Linked DNA regions of Homo sapiens. The protein of the gene in region 1 interacts with the protein of each later gene in a biochemical or structural test. Each region holds a gene or a part of one and is shown on either strand. Other genes may lie near its edges.

Region 1 (8,624 bases):
TGCAAATGTTCCTTAACCTCTCTGGCCCTCTATTTCCTCCTTTGAAAAGGAGAGTTAAAATCTTGCCCTCTCGGCATGAGGTTATTGGGAAGAATCAGAGGTATGATTGATAGGGTCATGGCACAGTGGTTAAGAGTATGAACCATGATCCCAGATATCTTGGGTTTAAATCCCACGTCTGCTATTTACCAGCTGTGTGACTTTGGGCAGTATACTTAATTCTCAGGTTTTCTATTTCTCATCTATAAAGGGAACATCATTATAGTACCTACCTCATAAAGTTGTTATGAGAATCAAATACATGTCAAATCCGTGGTACAGGGGTTGACAACAGTAATCCAAGTTTGCTCTAATTTGAATAAACGCAGTTCTTCTTACTATACTGTAAAGACTATATCTGACCAGGTGCAGTGGCTCACGACCTGTAATCCCAGCACTTTGGAAGTCTGAGGCAGGTGGATCACTTGAGCCCAGGAGTTCGAGACCAGCCTGGGCAACATGGCGAAACCCAGTCTCCACTAAAAACACAAAAATTAGCCGGGCGTGGTGGCACACACCTGTAGTCCCAGCTACTCAGGAGGCTGACGCACGAGTATCATTTGAACCCAGAAGGCGGAGGTTGCAGTGTGCTGAGATCACACCACTGCACTCCATCCAGCCTGGGTGATGGAGTGAGACTCTGTCTCAAAAAAAAAAAAACAAAAAAAATACTATATCTGGCTACAGTAGTATTCCCAATGCCTGCCACATAGTTGGTGATCAGTAAGTATTTATTTTAAAAATGATCTGGGATTTCAACCCACATCTGCATAACTCAAAACATTTATGCCAGTGATTCTCAATGTATGATCCAGGGCTGTCTGCCTGAATGGGCCTGACCCCAAGAATCAGAGCCCCTGGCTGGCCAGAACTCTGGATTTATCCTCTCCAGTTCAGCAATAGGCTCACAGTGTAACCTGGGCCAGTTCTCCCTCTCTAGGTCTCAGTTTCCCCATCTGTAAAAGTAAGGGCTCTCTGGGGTGAGGAGCTGTTTATCCACATGACCAGCCCTGCTCCATGGGGGCTCCTGGTATCTCAAGACACGCAACCTTCAAGCCACAAAGGATCGTCACTGACGTTACTACTTTTATTTTGTAAGCCCGCATGTCTCAGGGCTCATGTGTGTGTGTCTGTGCGTGTGCGTACACAGGCACACATTCAGATCTGCAGGTGATGTGGCTTGGGGAGAGGCTGCCATAAATATTAAACTCCCAACTCCAAAGTACCCTGCAGAGATTCAGAACTGCAGGAATTCATAACATCATTCTCTTTCAAGAGTCAGTGTTCTCAGGAGTGTGGGCACCGTCATAGAAAACTATCGAAAAGGAGAGTGAAGCATTAGAGAACTGCTGAGCTTGGAGGGAACTCGGAGCTCATTTAGTCCCTTGTTCCCGAAGCTCCAAGCACAATCCGTGGTCAGCAGCATCACCCTCACCAGGGAGCTTGTTAAAATGCAGAGGCTCAGCCCCAAGAGGAACATGATGGATCAAGATTTGCATCTAAACAAGATCCCTGGGGGACTTGACTGCACGTCTTTGTTTCTGAAAAGCTGTCCTAGTCCCCAGCCCTCATCTGCATTTGGGGGAAACATGAGGAACAGAGAGGGGTGGAGTTTGTTCCAGGTCCCCCAGCCCATTAGGAGCAGGGCCTTGACAAAAAACCTGTAAGACTTTGGAAAAGGATTCAAAGCTCTCTGCGAGAGGCAGGCGTTTGCACAAAAGATGAATAAGTGCAGAAGAAATGCTCAGTGTTGCTAATTGTGTCCAACAGGGTTCAGGCAAGAAAAGAGAATCCAACTGCATTGGTTCTTGGGATTTGAATAAAGTGGCTATTTCTAGAGTTGGGGGACAAGCTTGAGGAAACCAACCAGGGACTGTTTTTCCTAAGGCTCAAGCAGCAAAGAAAAGCATCTGGGTATCCCAGCCCAAGGAGATAATAGGAGCCAAGGACAAGGCCTTATCAGGAGGGACACAGCCAACTGCCACACTTGTGATCTAGAGAAGACAGCAGGGAAAAGTGCCCTGACATCTGACCTCCTGCCATGCCACCCTCTGGCTGAACCCAAGTAGAGATGAGGAAACTGAGTCACAAAGTGCCCAAAGTCACCCCGTGGGGGAGTCAGGATTCAAATCCAGGCCATCTGGCCCCAGAGTCCATAAAGATAAACATAAGGTTTGTTTATTCCTTTGGCAATTATCTACTATTTGCTGCTCAGTATTCTAGACACTATGGATTCCAAATTCTGGGTTTTTCAAAATCTTTTCAGTAACACTTTTGTAGTGAGAATATTATCGGTGGCGAGTCCGCAACACTCCCAGCCCTTGTCTTCTCAGAGGAAAGAATTCAATTGAGAGACGCAGGCAAGTTTTAAAGCAGAGGCAAAGGTTTATTGAAAGAAGCAAAGTACAACTGAGAGATCAAGTGCCCCGCTCAACCTTTGGCTCGGGGCTTTTATACACTGGCTTGGTTCTGGGGTTTCTTCTCCTCCTTGATTCCTCCCTTCGGTGGGCTGCTGCGCCCTCCCTGCATGCGCAATGGCCTGCCAGCACTTGGGAGGGGCCGCATGCGCAGTGTGTTTACTAAGGTTGTGCGCATGCTCACTTGGGGTGATTTTCCCTTACTGGTCCGTCGCCGCAAGAAAAAGGTCATATACAAGTCAGACTCCAACATTTGCCCTTCTGCTCGACCTTACCAGGGAATTGTGGTTTGCTGGCTCCAGATGATGTCAACTATCTGTTAGGGAACTCCTCTCCCTCTTGGCGCCATTCGTGGCCACTTATCATGTCAGAGGGACAGTTTTATGATCGCCTGTCCATCATTTGATGCACTGCCATTTCTGGGGGCCCTCTCCTGCACAAGAACACAATAAACAGCCTTGTTAAAAGAGTCCCTATTTCACTGCAATAAGACTGAGTGGTGGCCAGAGTGGTAGCAGCTGTTGCTTTTGTGGAATTGGATGGACAGCCTGGTAGGAGAAAGGCCCAGGGGTTCTGACCAGCAGTGGGGTCGTGCTGCTCCCTGAGGCCTCTGCTGGGTCCTGGGCCATCAGCAGGGACCTTAGCCAGCAGTGGGCACCTGCAGGGGTGGAGGCCAGGCCTGGGCCATGTGGCAGCTCTAAGGTCCAAAGATTGCTGCTGTGGGAAATTCCCACCCCTGCAAATGACTCCCAGCCAGGGACATCCTTAAACTGCTGCCAGAGGAAGAGTGACATCTATGTCCCCATAAGATCCTTATGCTCCAGAATGTCCTCCCCCACTCTCCTCCCCTCCTGGGCAGGCTGAGGTCCAGGAAGCAAAGGCCCCTAGGCACACTGGGGATGCACCTGTGAGCCCTTTCCTGCTCCAAAGCCTCCCAAAGGCTGGCTCCTTACCCTGAGGCCTCTGCTCAGCTTGTTGCCTCCCAAGAGAACCCTGCCCTGACCAGAGTTTTGGAATGGCATCCTGCAGACCTGGACTTAAATTCCTGCTGGGTGACTGCAGCCTACATCACTTCACCCTGCCAAACCTCAGTTTCTTCATCTCAAGACAAGACTAAAATATCCACCTGGGGTTGCTGATGCAAGGATGAGAGGAGACGTGCAGCTTAACCAGCACAGCGCCTGCACATAGTAGGTGCTCAATAAATATCAGTTTCTTTCCAATTTCTGCTGGGTGCTGCAAGGATCTCAGGAAATGGAAGACTCAGCCGTGCCTGCAAGGAGCCATCAGACTGGTGGTGTGGGGACTGAGGGGAGGGACGGATGAGGATCCCAACAAACCTCAGCCCCAGTGACAGGAGCAACACGGTACAGAGGAGCAGAGAGGCCTGGACTGTGGGGTTCCCTGTGCTTAACGTGGGACATTCTGATCTTAACCTCAGTGCCTGCCAGTGCTGTTTGTGACCTATTGGGAGTCACCCTGTTAATCCCACCACATTCAGTTGGTTGAGGCCATCATGAAAACCTGCCCAATTTCAAGGGAAGGGGGCAGAAACATTACCTTTTGATGGAAGGAATATCAAAGAATTCGTGGGCATATTTTTAAAGGACCACAATTATCAAAAAGCAGAGTGGTTAATGCTGTGGTGGGGAAAGCGCAAAGGGTTCTGGGACCTCAGAGGGGACCCTTTCTAGAATCCAGAGAAGCATGGGAGTGGTCAGGGAAGGCTTCCTGGGGGTGAGGGCAAAGCAGAACTCACAAATGTAAGCAGGGCTGGGGCAAAACTCTAAAAATTAAACACAGTCTGTACTATAAATTTTGTTTTCCAGAATGAAATTTTACTATCTTTACTTACTGCGAATATATGCCCGGGACCATACCCCCAAGAAAATAAAAATTTTAGAGGCTGGGCATGGTGGCCCAAGTCTATAATCCCAGTATTTTGGAAGGCCAAGCGGGAGGCTTACTTGAGCTCAGGAGTTCGACACCAGCCTGGGCAACATAGCAAGACCTCGTCCCTACTAAAATACAAAAAATTAGCTGGACATGGTGGCTCACACCTGTAGTCCCAGCTACTTAGGGGGCTGTGGTGGGAGGATCACTTGAGCCCAGGAAGTTGAGGTTGCAGCGAGCGATGTTCATGCCACTGGACTCCTGCTTGAGCAACAGAGTAGACTTTGTCTCAAAAAATGAAAAAAGAAAAAAAAATTGTACGTATCAACAAGCAAAAACTTTTTTAACACTTATAATTCTACCCCCACAACCAGAGACAATGCCTCATGACTCCTTGCTAAATATTTTCCAGATTGTTGAACATAGAAGCCTATTTTGAACCCCCCAAAATAGAACCTTACTCTATGGTGCCATCGGAAACGGATGCCTCATGACATCCCTTTCCTTGCCAAGAAATACCTTTATTTCTGCAGCCTCACTTTAAGGGGCATGTCATAATTCATTTAACCAATGCCCTTCTGGTGGATACATGAGGTTGGGTCTCACTTCTCCTGTCCTGTTTCCCACAGCATAGCAGTGGTATCTTGGAGCAGTGATTTACTGGCACACTGACTCAATTATGTATTTAAGGGCAAGTCCCTGAAATTGAATTCCTGGGTCACAGGGCATGCAACTGTTTAAACATTTGCCAATTGCCTTCCAGAAAATTTCACCACCAGCAAGGTTTGAGAAACACTGTTTTCCCATTGGGGGAAACATTTATTTTTTAAATAAACGAGCCAATATATTTTAAAAAAGAGAGTTTGGTTGGTGCCAGATGTAGCTTCACTCTCAACCCTGCCCTCTGCTGGGGGTGAGATCTCAAGGGAGCTATGTGGCTTTTTTGAACCTCAGTTTCCTCATCTGCTAAACCAGGCCTTCCTAGCCGAGCTCTTAAGAGACTGGCTGAGATGAGGCAAGATGAACAGTGATGAATATGGGGTCTTTCTGTGGGGAGGGTGGACAGGGATGATCATAGGAGTCAGGCTTCCTCATCCACTGATCTGGGCAGTGAAAACTGGCTTCTAAGTATGACCTTATGACTTCAGTGATGTCGCAAGCAGGTTCCAGTCCCTGTGCCTCCCCTTCCCGCTCCCAGGAACCCATCCAGCCTCAGGAACTGCCCCCAGCCATCGAGCCTTGGCTACTTAAGGGACCTGGGCCCAATCCACAGCTGGGACAGTCCTGGCCCACTGCACTGGGAATCTAGGATGGGGGCCTTGGCCAGAGCCCTGCCGTCCATACTGCTGGCATTGCTGCTTACGTCCACCCCAGAGGCTCTGGGTGCCAACCCCGGCTTGGTCGCCAGGATCACCGACAAGGGACTGCAGTATGGTAAGAAGCCACATCTGCTGGCTGGACTTGGCAAACCCACGCTCCAGGCTGCTCTGGGTACAGTGGGGACAGGGAGTGGGGACACAGACCGGACCCTCTCCCTGGGGCAGTGCCACCTTCTGGGTCAGGTGGCTCTGGCTCCTATTCTGGCCTTACTGCCCACCAGCTGAGTGCCCTGGGCATGTTATTTGTGGTAGTGAGGTCCTCCACCAGCCAACAGAACACAGCTTTGCGTGCAAGTAGTTGATTTGGGAAATGATTCCAGGAAACACTGTAGGGAATCGGTACTGAGATGAGGAAGGGAGGGCAGCCAGGAGAGAGTGTGCAATTAAACCAGCCACCACCTCTGATGATGGGAACCACTCAGCTGGGAAAATTCTGCGTAAAGTTTGGAAACACATGCCTCTGAACTGGAAGTCAGAATTGTGGTCACCTCTAGAGGCAGGCAGAGACCCTGAAGGGCATGAGGGAGGTCTGCCGGGGTGCTGGAAGTTGCCATATCTTGATCCAGGTGGTGATCACATTCCTGTATAAACATTAAAAATTATTTAGCAATACCTTTAAAATTTGTGCCCGTTAGGTACTTTATGTATATTATTCCTCAATTTTAAAGAATGGGCAGGCCAGGCACAGTGGCTCACGCCTGTAATCCCAGCACTTTGGGAGGCCGAGGTGGGTGGATAGCTTCAGGCCAGGAGTTCGAGGCAAGCCTGGCCAACATGGTGAAGCCTCGCCTCTCCTAAAAATACAAAAATTAGCCAGTCTTGGTGGCAGCCAACTGTAATCCCAGCTACTTGGGAGGCTGAGGCAGGAGAATCGCTTGAACCCGGGAGGCAGAGGTTGCAGTGAGCCGAGATCATGCTGCTGCATTGCAGCCTGGGCAACAGAGGGAGACTGTCTCAAAAAAATAAATAAAAATAAAACAAAGAATGAGCAAAAGTAGGAGTATTTTTTTTTAAATACTGAAACAAAGCCTCCCGACTATCCAGGTGGCATGGGAACTGGGATATTTATACACCACAGTGATTGATTGAGGGCTTCTGGGCCGGGGGTTTGTCAACTCCCCAGCACTTCTGTCCTGTTGCATGTACCTGCTTTCTGCAGTTCCAGGACAAAAAGCCTCGGGACATACAGGCTCAGGGAGGCAGACATTGGCAGCTGGGAGTCAACTGTCACTCACTGGAAAGACTCAAGGATATGGACAGGCACTGACCACATGTCTTCTCACATCCCTAGAGCCTCAATTGCCTTACCTATTAAATGAGATAACAACATTCCCTTAGATAGGGTTGTTGGGAGCCCAGACTGGCTCGAGACAGGCAGAGGGAAATCAGGGAAGGATTCCAGGATATAGTAAAATGGAAAAGACAGTGGGAATTACCCAGGGACAAGGGGTAGCGTTCCAGGCGGAAGGACCCCAACATGTGCGTTTGCTAGAGGGAGAAGAGCAAATTGGAAAGAGGTGAAAGGGGAGGCTGCTGGTCATCTGTGTACCCATGTCTGCCTTGGGGACAGAAACCTGGGCCCCTCAGATCTCGGAACAGTGGGACCTGGTAACTGCTACTTGCATTGAAACTGTAAATCAGGGAAGTTTCTCTTTTGTTCCTTTGCACTGTGCACACACACCATGTTTATGTAACCAGTCCTCTGAGGTTGGACATTTTGGTCCTTTCCATATTTTTTTTTTTTTTGAAACGGAGTCTCACTCTGTTGCCAGGCTGGAGTGCAATGGCACAATCTCAGCTCACTGCAACCTCCGACTCCCTGGTTCAAGTGATTCTCCTGCCTCAGCCTCCCGAGTAGCTGGGATTACAGGCACATGCTACCACGCCCAGCTAATTTTTGTATTTTTAGTAGAGACAGGATTTCACTATGTTGGCCAGGATGGTCTCGATGATCCACCCGCCTCGGCCTCCCAAAGTGCTGGGATTACAGGCGTGAGCCACTGCGCCCGACCCCTTTCCATATTTTTAATAATATAAACCCTATTTGCTGTTCCAGGCATTTACTGAGTGCCTGCTGTGTGTCAGGCACCAAGCTAGGAGTGCTTGTTATCCTCACAGCCCCCTTCTTGCTTTGCAGTTTCAATGGCATGCCAATGAGGAAAGTTTAGTTTAGTTTAGTTTAGTTTAGTTTAGTTTAGTTTAGTTTTGTTTTGTTTTGTTTTGTTTGAGACAGAGTCTCACTCTGTCGCCCAGGCTAGAGTGCGGTAGTGCGATCTCGGCTCACTGCAATCTCTGCCTCCCGGGTTCAAGTGATTCTCCTGCCTCAGCCTCCTGAGTAGCTGAGACTACAGGTGCCTGCCACCATGCCCGGCTAATTTTTGTATTTTTTAGCAGAGATGAAGTTTCACCATATTGGCCAGGCTGGTCTCGAACTCCTGACCTCAGGTGATCTGCCCTCCTCGGCCTCCCAAAGTGCTGGGATTACAGGCGTGAGCCACCACGCCCAGCAAATGTATTGTTGTCATTGCTATTTGACAGATGAACAAAGTGAAGGTTGTTTGGGGACTTTGTCAAAGTCACCCAGCTAGAAAGATGCCCTCTTTCTCTAGCCCCCAGATCCTTCCAGTTTCTTCTACACAGGCCAGATGTCATGGAGAACAAGAAGGAGGACTATCCGTCCAAGCGCACAGCACTTTTGCCCTTGGGGATTTGTTGGCAAAGGCATTCCATTTCCTCATCAGTAAAATGGGCATGAACCTAACAATGCCACAGAAATGCAGGGACACCTCTGAATGTCCCTCATGCTACCTGGCACACAGAGGGGCTCATATCCTGTCATTGTACTTAATGCTAATAAGGATGTTGGCCCCTCTCTTGAGGACAGGTGGGAGCCACC
Region 2 (6,895 bases), on another chromosome or scaffold:
AAGAGAGGGGAGGGGGAAAGAGAGAAAGACATTGGTTTGTGGGACAACAGAAAGGCGGGACAACTCGAAGTGGGGCGGTGGGGGGCTTCCAGCTTATAGGTAGATTTTAAATTTTTCTGGTTGACAATTGGTTGAGTTTCTCTAAAGACCTGAAATCAATAGAAAGGAATGTCTGGGTTAAGATAAAGGATTGTGGAGACCCAAGTTCTTATTTGCAGAGGAAACCTTCAAATCCTAGGCTTCAGAGAGAATGGGTTGTAAAATGTTTCTTATCAAACTTAAAGTCTGTGTTGATGTTAACGGTAGAGAGGTATAATGAGGCACGTTCAACCCCTACTTCCCATCATGGCCTGAAACGGTCACTCGGGTTTAATTTTGAAAGAGCCCTGGCTGAGGAGGAAGTCCATTCAGATGGTTGTGGGGGGCGGCCTTAGAATTTTATTTTTGCTTTACAGAATGTTCACCACAATGACCATTATTCTCATTTTATATGTGATGAAAATGAGAAAGATATCATTATTTCACTTCTCTGCATAAAACTGAATTCCCATAATTTTTAGGATAAAATCTTTCACCAAATGTGGAGTGCCACTAGTCTACTAGGCACTGAGGAAACACTAGTGAATAAAAAACCGTGTTCCTCACATTCAAAATTGGAATTGTGGCCGACTTAGCCCTACATGGTCTAACCCCTGCATACCTCTCCAATCTGGACTCACCTCTTCTGGGACCTTCTCTTTGTCAACAAGCCCTGTTCTTTTTCTCCTCCACCCTACTCCCACTCTTGGGGGAGGCTCTCGCACAAGCTGTTTTCTCTGCCTGCATCCTTCCCTTTTCTTTCTACCAGCATCCTTCCCTCAACACCATTCTCAACATGTCAAGTCCAGTGTCACCTACTCAGAACCATTGTACCAATGACCCAGCTTCTTCACAACCCTTTTCACAGCTATCATTAAGTTATAGTGTAATTATTTGATGTTGTCTCCTCCCAGACCCCCTTGGCAGCTCCAGAAGATTAGGGTCCCGGTGGCACCTAAGAATTTTTACAGGAAACCTCTAATTTTTAAAAAGCCATATAACTTAGGCAAAGGTTCAATTAAGTACAAATCTAGGAAAAAGGTTATTCTTAAAACCAATTTCTTTCCCTTGAACTTAATTCTACCCCTTGGAGTTAATCAATGAAGTCTGCAATCTCTTCCACAAAACAGCATGTTAAAATATCTACAGGCCATCATTCCATCCTCCATATCTTCTCTCCCAGTATCCATCCAGCCCCTGGAGAGCCATTTACTGAGTACCTGCTGTGCACCATGCTCTGGCCAGGGATAGGGCCTGGATCTTGAGCCCTTCCTCATGCAACTGTCTGGCTTCTTTTTTTAATTTTTTAATTAAAAAAAATTTATTTTCTTATTTCCCCAAGAAAAACTTTTTTATTTTTATTTTATTTATTTATTTTTTTTTTTGAGCCAGGGTCTTGCTCGGTTGCCCACGCTGCAGTGCAGTAGTGCAATCATGGCTTATCACAGCCTGGAACTCAGCCTTAAATGATCCTTTCAGCTTGGCCTCCCAAAGTGCTAGAATTACTGGCATGAGCCACTGCACCTAACCCAGGCTAGCTTCTAAGACCCACACTTGGCCCAGCAAGGTGGCTCATGCCTATAATCCCAGCACTTTGGGAGATGGAGGCAGGTGGATCACCTGAGGTCAGGAGTTCGAGACCAGCATGACCAACATGGTGAAACCCCGTCTCTACTAAAAATGCAAAATTAACCAGGTGTGGTGGCACGTGCTTGTAATCCCAGCTACTCAGGAGACTGAGGCAGGAGACTCGCTTGAACCCAGGAGGTGGAGGTTGCGATGAGCCAAGATTGCATCATTGCACTCCAGCCTGGGCAACAAGAGTGAAACTCCATCTAAAACAACAACAATAACAACAACAACAAAACCCACATGTGCTCCAGGTGGGGAAGATGAAAAAAGTTCCCAGCCAAAAGCTATATTCTGCCCAGTGTCTGCTCAGACAGCTACAGCTGCCCAAATTGCCTTTCTGTATCTACCTGTCTAGCAACACTGTTAACCCTGTAAGAACCAGCCCCATGTCCTGTCTTGTACAGGGCTGGCTGTTCCTTTCTCCAGACCATGTTCCTCCCCTCCACCCCTCTCCCCCAACAACACAAGCCTTTGGTTTCTCTTCTTTTAAGAGCCCTCTGCACTATGGACGGAAGTTCTGGGTTCATGTTTGCTCTACCCACCTCCTGGAGCACTTCAGGGACTTGTCTTTGTCATGTCTGTGTCCCAGGGCTTTCTACCAACCCTAGTACTCGGTAGACAAATGATAGACATTTGTTGAATCAAGCTGTGAGTTGGAGATCTTTGCAGAACCATCACTGCCCCTCTTAACTTGGAACTCCCCACCCAGAGTGCCTCCCCTAAGATGATGAGGTGTCAGACTTCAGTGGCCTGAGTTCTCTGAAAGCAGAGACTCTGAGAAAGAAGACTAGTCATCAAGACCACACTAAAAAGATGTGTTTCTGTGCCAAAGACTTTACTCACAAACAGGTAATACTATCATCTCCATTTTACAGAAGGGAGGCCCAAGTCTCATAACCTCAGTCGTAAAGCTGGGATTCCAAGACTGGCTATCTGACTTTGAGTCAGATATAATCATATCTTGGTCCTCAGGGATATCACAGAGGCCTGGCATGGCACCAGGGCATGGCCCAGTGCATTGGGGTATGCCCAACAGGACCCGCAGGGGGCAGTGATGAGCCTTCTTGTTTGGATTGGGGACAAATCTGCAGCTACTTCTTTCTCAATTAAAGAGGAAGTGGGAATTTAAAAAAGACTTTCTGCCGGGCACGGTGGCTCATGCCTGTAATCCCAGCACTTTGGGAGGCCGAGGCAGGTGAATCACCTGAGGTCGGGAGTTCGAGACCAGCCTGACCAACATGGAGAAACCCCATCTCTACTAAAAATACAAAATTAGCCGGGTGTAGTGGCACATGCCTGTAATCCCAGCCGCTCGGGAAGCTGAGGCAGGAGAATTGCTGGAACCTGGGAGGCGGAGATTGCAGTGAGCTGAGATCGCGCCCAGCCTGGGCAACAAGAACAAAACTCCGTCTCAAATAAATAAATAAAAGTAAAAAAGACTTTCAGGCCGGGTGTGGTGGCTCTCGCCTGTAATCCCAGCACTTTGAGAGGCCAAGGCGGGCGGATCACCTGAGGTCAGGAGTGCCTGGTCAACATAGTGAAACTCTGTCTCTACTAAAACTACAAAAATTAGCCGGGCATGGTGGTGGGCTCCTGTAATCCCAGCTACTCAGGAATCTGAGGCAAGAGAATTGCTTGAACTTGGGAGGCGGAGGTTGCAGTGAGCCAAGATCACGCCACTGCACTCCAGCCTGGGCAACAGAGCCAAACTCAGTCTCAAAAAAAAAAAAAAAAAAAAAGACTTTCATATAGTTCTTTCCCCAGAGGTCTAGGGATGTGGACCTGTGAGGGCTGTTGTAAATGCGTAGCTCCTTATTCTCTGGGACATTTGTTGTTTTTTTGTTTTGTTTTGTTTGCTGTTTTTTTCATTTTGTTTTGTTTTCTGTTTTTGTCTGTTTTTTGCGAAACTGGTGAGTTACTAATTAATCCTCATTCAACATAGTCCCATCCCTTCCTTCCTAGGGCACAGAGATTGTACTGAGGGGAGGGCAGGAGAGAGCAACGTGCAAGTGGGAAAACTGATTCAAAATACCTTGCTTCACAATTTCAGGACAGAAAATGGATAGTGTAAGTGACCCAGAGACTTGGCCAATGTGTCTCTGTTAAATACATCCACTTTTAAGAAAGTTAGTACTGCCAGGCACAGTGGCTCACGCCTGTAATCCCAGCACTTTGGGAGGCCGAGGCGGGTGGATCACAAGGTCAGGAGTTCAAGACCAGCCTGGCCAAGATGATGAAAACCTGTCTCTACTAAAAAATACAAAAATTAGCTGGGTGTGGTGGTGGGCACTTGTAATCCCAGCTACTCGGGAGGCTGAGGCAGAGAATTGCTTGAACCCAGGAGGCGGAGGTTGCAGTGAGCCGAGATCATGGCACTCTACTCCAGCCTGAGCAACAGAGCAAGACTCTATCTCAAAAAAAAAAAAAAAAAAGAAAGAAAGTTATTACTTAATCAAAGGAGCAAGGAAAAAAAAAGGAAGGGGGAATTTTTCTTTAGACCAACTTCCTTTTCTTGAACCTAATTCTACCCCCCTTGGTGCCAACAGATGAGGTTCACAATCTCTTCCACAAAACATGCAGTTAAATATCTGAGGATATTCAGGGACTTGGATTTGGTGGCAGGAGATCAACATAAACCAAGACAAGGAAGAAGTCAAAGAAATGAATCAAGTAGATTCTCTGGGATATAAGGTAGGGGGATTGGGGGGTTGGATAGTGCAGAGTATGGTACTGGCCTAAGGCACTGAGGATCATCCTTTTCCCACACCCACCAGAGAAGGCTTAGGCTCCCGAGTCAACAGGGCATTCACCGCCTGGGGCGCCTGAGTCATCAGGACACTGCCAGGAGACACAGAACCCTAGATGCCCTGCAGAATCCTTCCTGTTACGGTCCCCCTCCCTGAAACATCCTTCATTGCAATATTTCCAGGAAAGGAAGGGGGCTGGCTCGGAGGAAGAGAGGTGGGGAGGTGATCAGGGTTCACAGAGGAGGGAACTGAATGACATCCCAGGATTACATAAACTGTCAGAGGCAGCCGAAGAGTTCACAAGTGTGAAGCCTGGAAGCCGGCGGGTGCCGCTGTGTAGGAAAGAAGCTAAAGCACTTCCAGAGCCTGTCCGGAGCTCAGAGGTTCGGAAGACTTATCGACCATGGTGAGTGTAGGGTCTTGGGGTCGAACGCGTGCCACTCGGGAGCCACAGGGGTTGGATGGGGCCTCCTAGACCTCTGCTCTCTCCCCAGGAGCGCGCGTCCTGCTTGTTGCTGCTGCTGCTGCCGCTGGTGCACGTCTCTGCGACCACGCCAGAACCTTGTGAGCTGGACGATGAAGATTTCCGCTGCGTCTGCAACTTCTCCGAACCTCAGCCCGACTGGTCCGAAGCCTTCCAGTGTGTGTCTGCAGTAGAGGTGGAGATCCATGCCGGCGGTCTCAACCTAGAGCCGTTTCTAAAGCGCGTCGATGCGGACGCCGACCCGCGGCAGTATGCTGACACGGTCAAGGCTCTCCGCGTGCGGCGGCTCACAGTGGGAGCCGCACAGGTTCCTGCTCAGCTACTGGTAGGCGCCCTGCGTGTGCTAGCGTACTCCCGCCTCAAGGAACTGACGCTCGAGGACCTAAAGATAACCGGCACCATGCCTCCGCTGCCTCTGGAAGCCACAGGACTTGCACTTTCCAGCTTGCGCCTACGCAACGTGTCGTGGGCGACAGGGCGTTCTTGGCTCGCCGAGCTGCAGCAGTGGCTCAAGCCAGGCCTCAAGGTACTGAGCATTGCCCAAGCACACTCGCCTGCCTTTTCCTGCGAACAGGTTCGCGCCTTCCCGGCCCTTACCAGCCTAGACCTGTCTGACAATCCTGGACTGGGCGAACGCGGACTGATGGCGGCTCTCTGTCCCCACAAGTTCCCGGCCATCCAGAATCTAGCGCTGCGCAACACAGGAATGGAGACGCCCACAGGCGTGTGCGCCGCACTGGCGGCGGCAGGTGTGCAGCCCCACAGCCTAGACCTCAGCCACAACTCGCTGCGCGCCACCGTAAACCCTAGCGCTCCGAGATGCATGTGGTCCAGCGCCCTGAACTCCCTCAATCTGTCGTTCGCTGGGCTGGAACAGGTGCCTAAAGGACTGCCAGCCAAGCTCAGAGTGCTCGATCTCAGCTGCAACAGACTGAACAGGGCGCCGCAGCCTGACGAGCTGCCCGAGGTGGATAACCTGACACTGGACGGGAATCCCTTCCTGGTCCCTGGAACTGCCCTCCCCCACGAGGGCTCAATGAACTCCGGCGTGGTCCCAGCCTGTGCACGTTCGACCCTGTCGGTGGGGGTGTCGGGAACCCTGGTGCTGCTCCAAGGGGCCCGGGGCTTTGCCTAAGATCCAAGACAGAATAATGAATGGACTCAAACTGCCTTGGCTTCAGGGGAGTCCCGTCAGGACGTTGAGGACTTTTCGACCAATTCAACCCTTTGCCCCACCTTTATTAAAATCTTAAACAACGGGTCCGTGTCATTCATTTAACAGACCTTTATTGGATGTCTGCTATGTGCTGGGCACAGTGCTGGATGGGGAATTCATCATACTTAGGCTTTCTTCATCCTAACTCCCTAAGAAACCCTATCTGTCCTCCTCAAGAAAAGAACTGCGGGGATAGAAGGAGCCAGGAAAGGACTCCTGGCTAGGGCTGCATGGGAGAAACAATGAGTGTGCAGTCAGGGCTTTCTGAGCAGATTATTGGCATCTGGATTAAAAGGTATTTGCATGATATTTGGAAGATACAAAATATTTCCTCTCCTATGCACTTCCCAAGAGCCAGCTGCTCCCTTTCAAAGGTAATAAAACCCACAGCCATTTGCTTATTTCCTTATTCTTTCTCTCTCTCACACACACACACACTCACACACCCTCCCTCTCCCTCTCTGTCTGTCTCCCTTACCACTCAAGGAAGAGGGACAGCCTCCTATCCTGCACAAGCTCTGAGTTTCATAATATTAGGGTTCCTCTCTTGTAAAACCTCTCTTCACCCGGAGGCTTTCACTGTGTCACTCCCCGACATAATGGGAAATTTGGGCCTAGGGAACTGACGCAAGATACAGTCGGTCTCTGAATTAGAGATCCTGTGTTCTGTTAGAACACATATGCAGATAACCTTTTCAGGCTGACTGATTGGCAAATAGGAAAGCATCTCAGACTCTT

What was found.
Region 2: the proteins of LBP (region 1) and CD14 form a complex in vitro, tested with the Homo sapiens proteins (one study listed by BioGRID).

What each region holds. Positions count from the first base shown.
Region 1 is NC_000020.11:38,340,858-38,349,481, forward strand, and holds the start of LBP (lipopolysaccharide-binding protein precursor), read left to right. Parts: upstream 1-5,624; 5' UTR 5,625-5,659; coding exon 5,660-5,783; intron 5,784-8,624. UniProt on the Homo sapiens protein: Plays a role in the innate immune response. Binds to the lipid A moiety of bacterial lipopolysaccharides (LPS), a glycolipid present in the outer membrane of all Gram-negative bacteria.
Region 2 is NC_000005.10:140,631,037-140,637,931, reverse strand, and holds CD14 (monocyte differentiation antigen CD14 precursor), read left to right. Parts: upstream 1-4,756; 5' UTR 4,757-4,860; coding exon 4,861-4,863; intron 4,864-4,951; coding exon 4,952-6,076; 3' UTR 6,077-6,200; downstream 6,201-6,895. UniProt on the Homo sapiens protein: Coreceptor for bacterial lipopolysaccharide. In concert with LBP, binds to monomeric lipopolysaccharide and delivers it to the LY96/TLR4 complex, thereby mediating the innate immune response to bacterial lipopolysaccharide (LPS).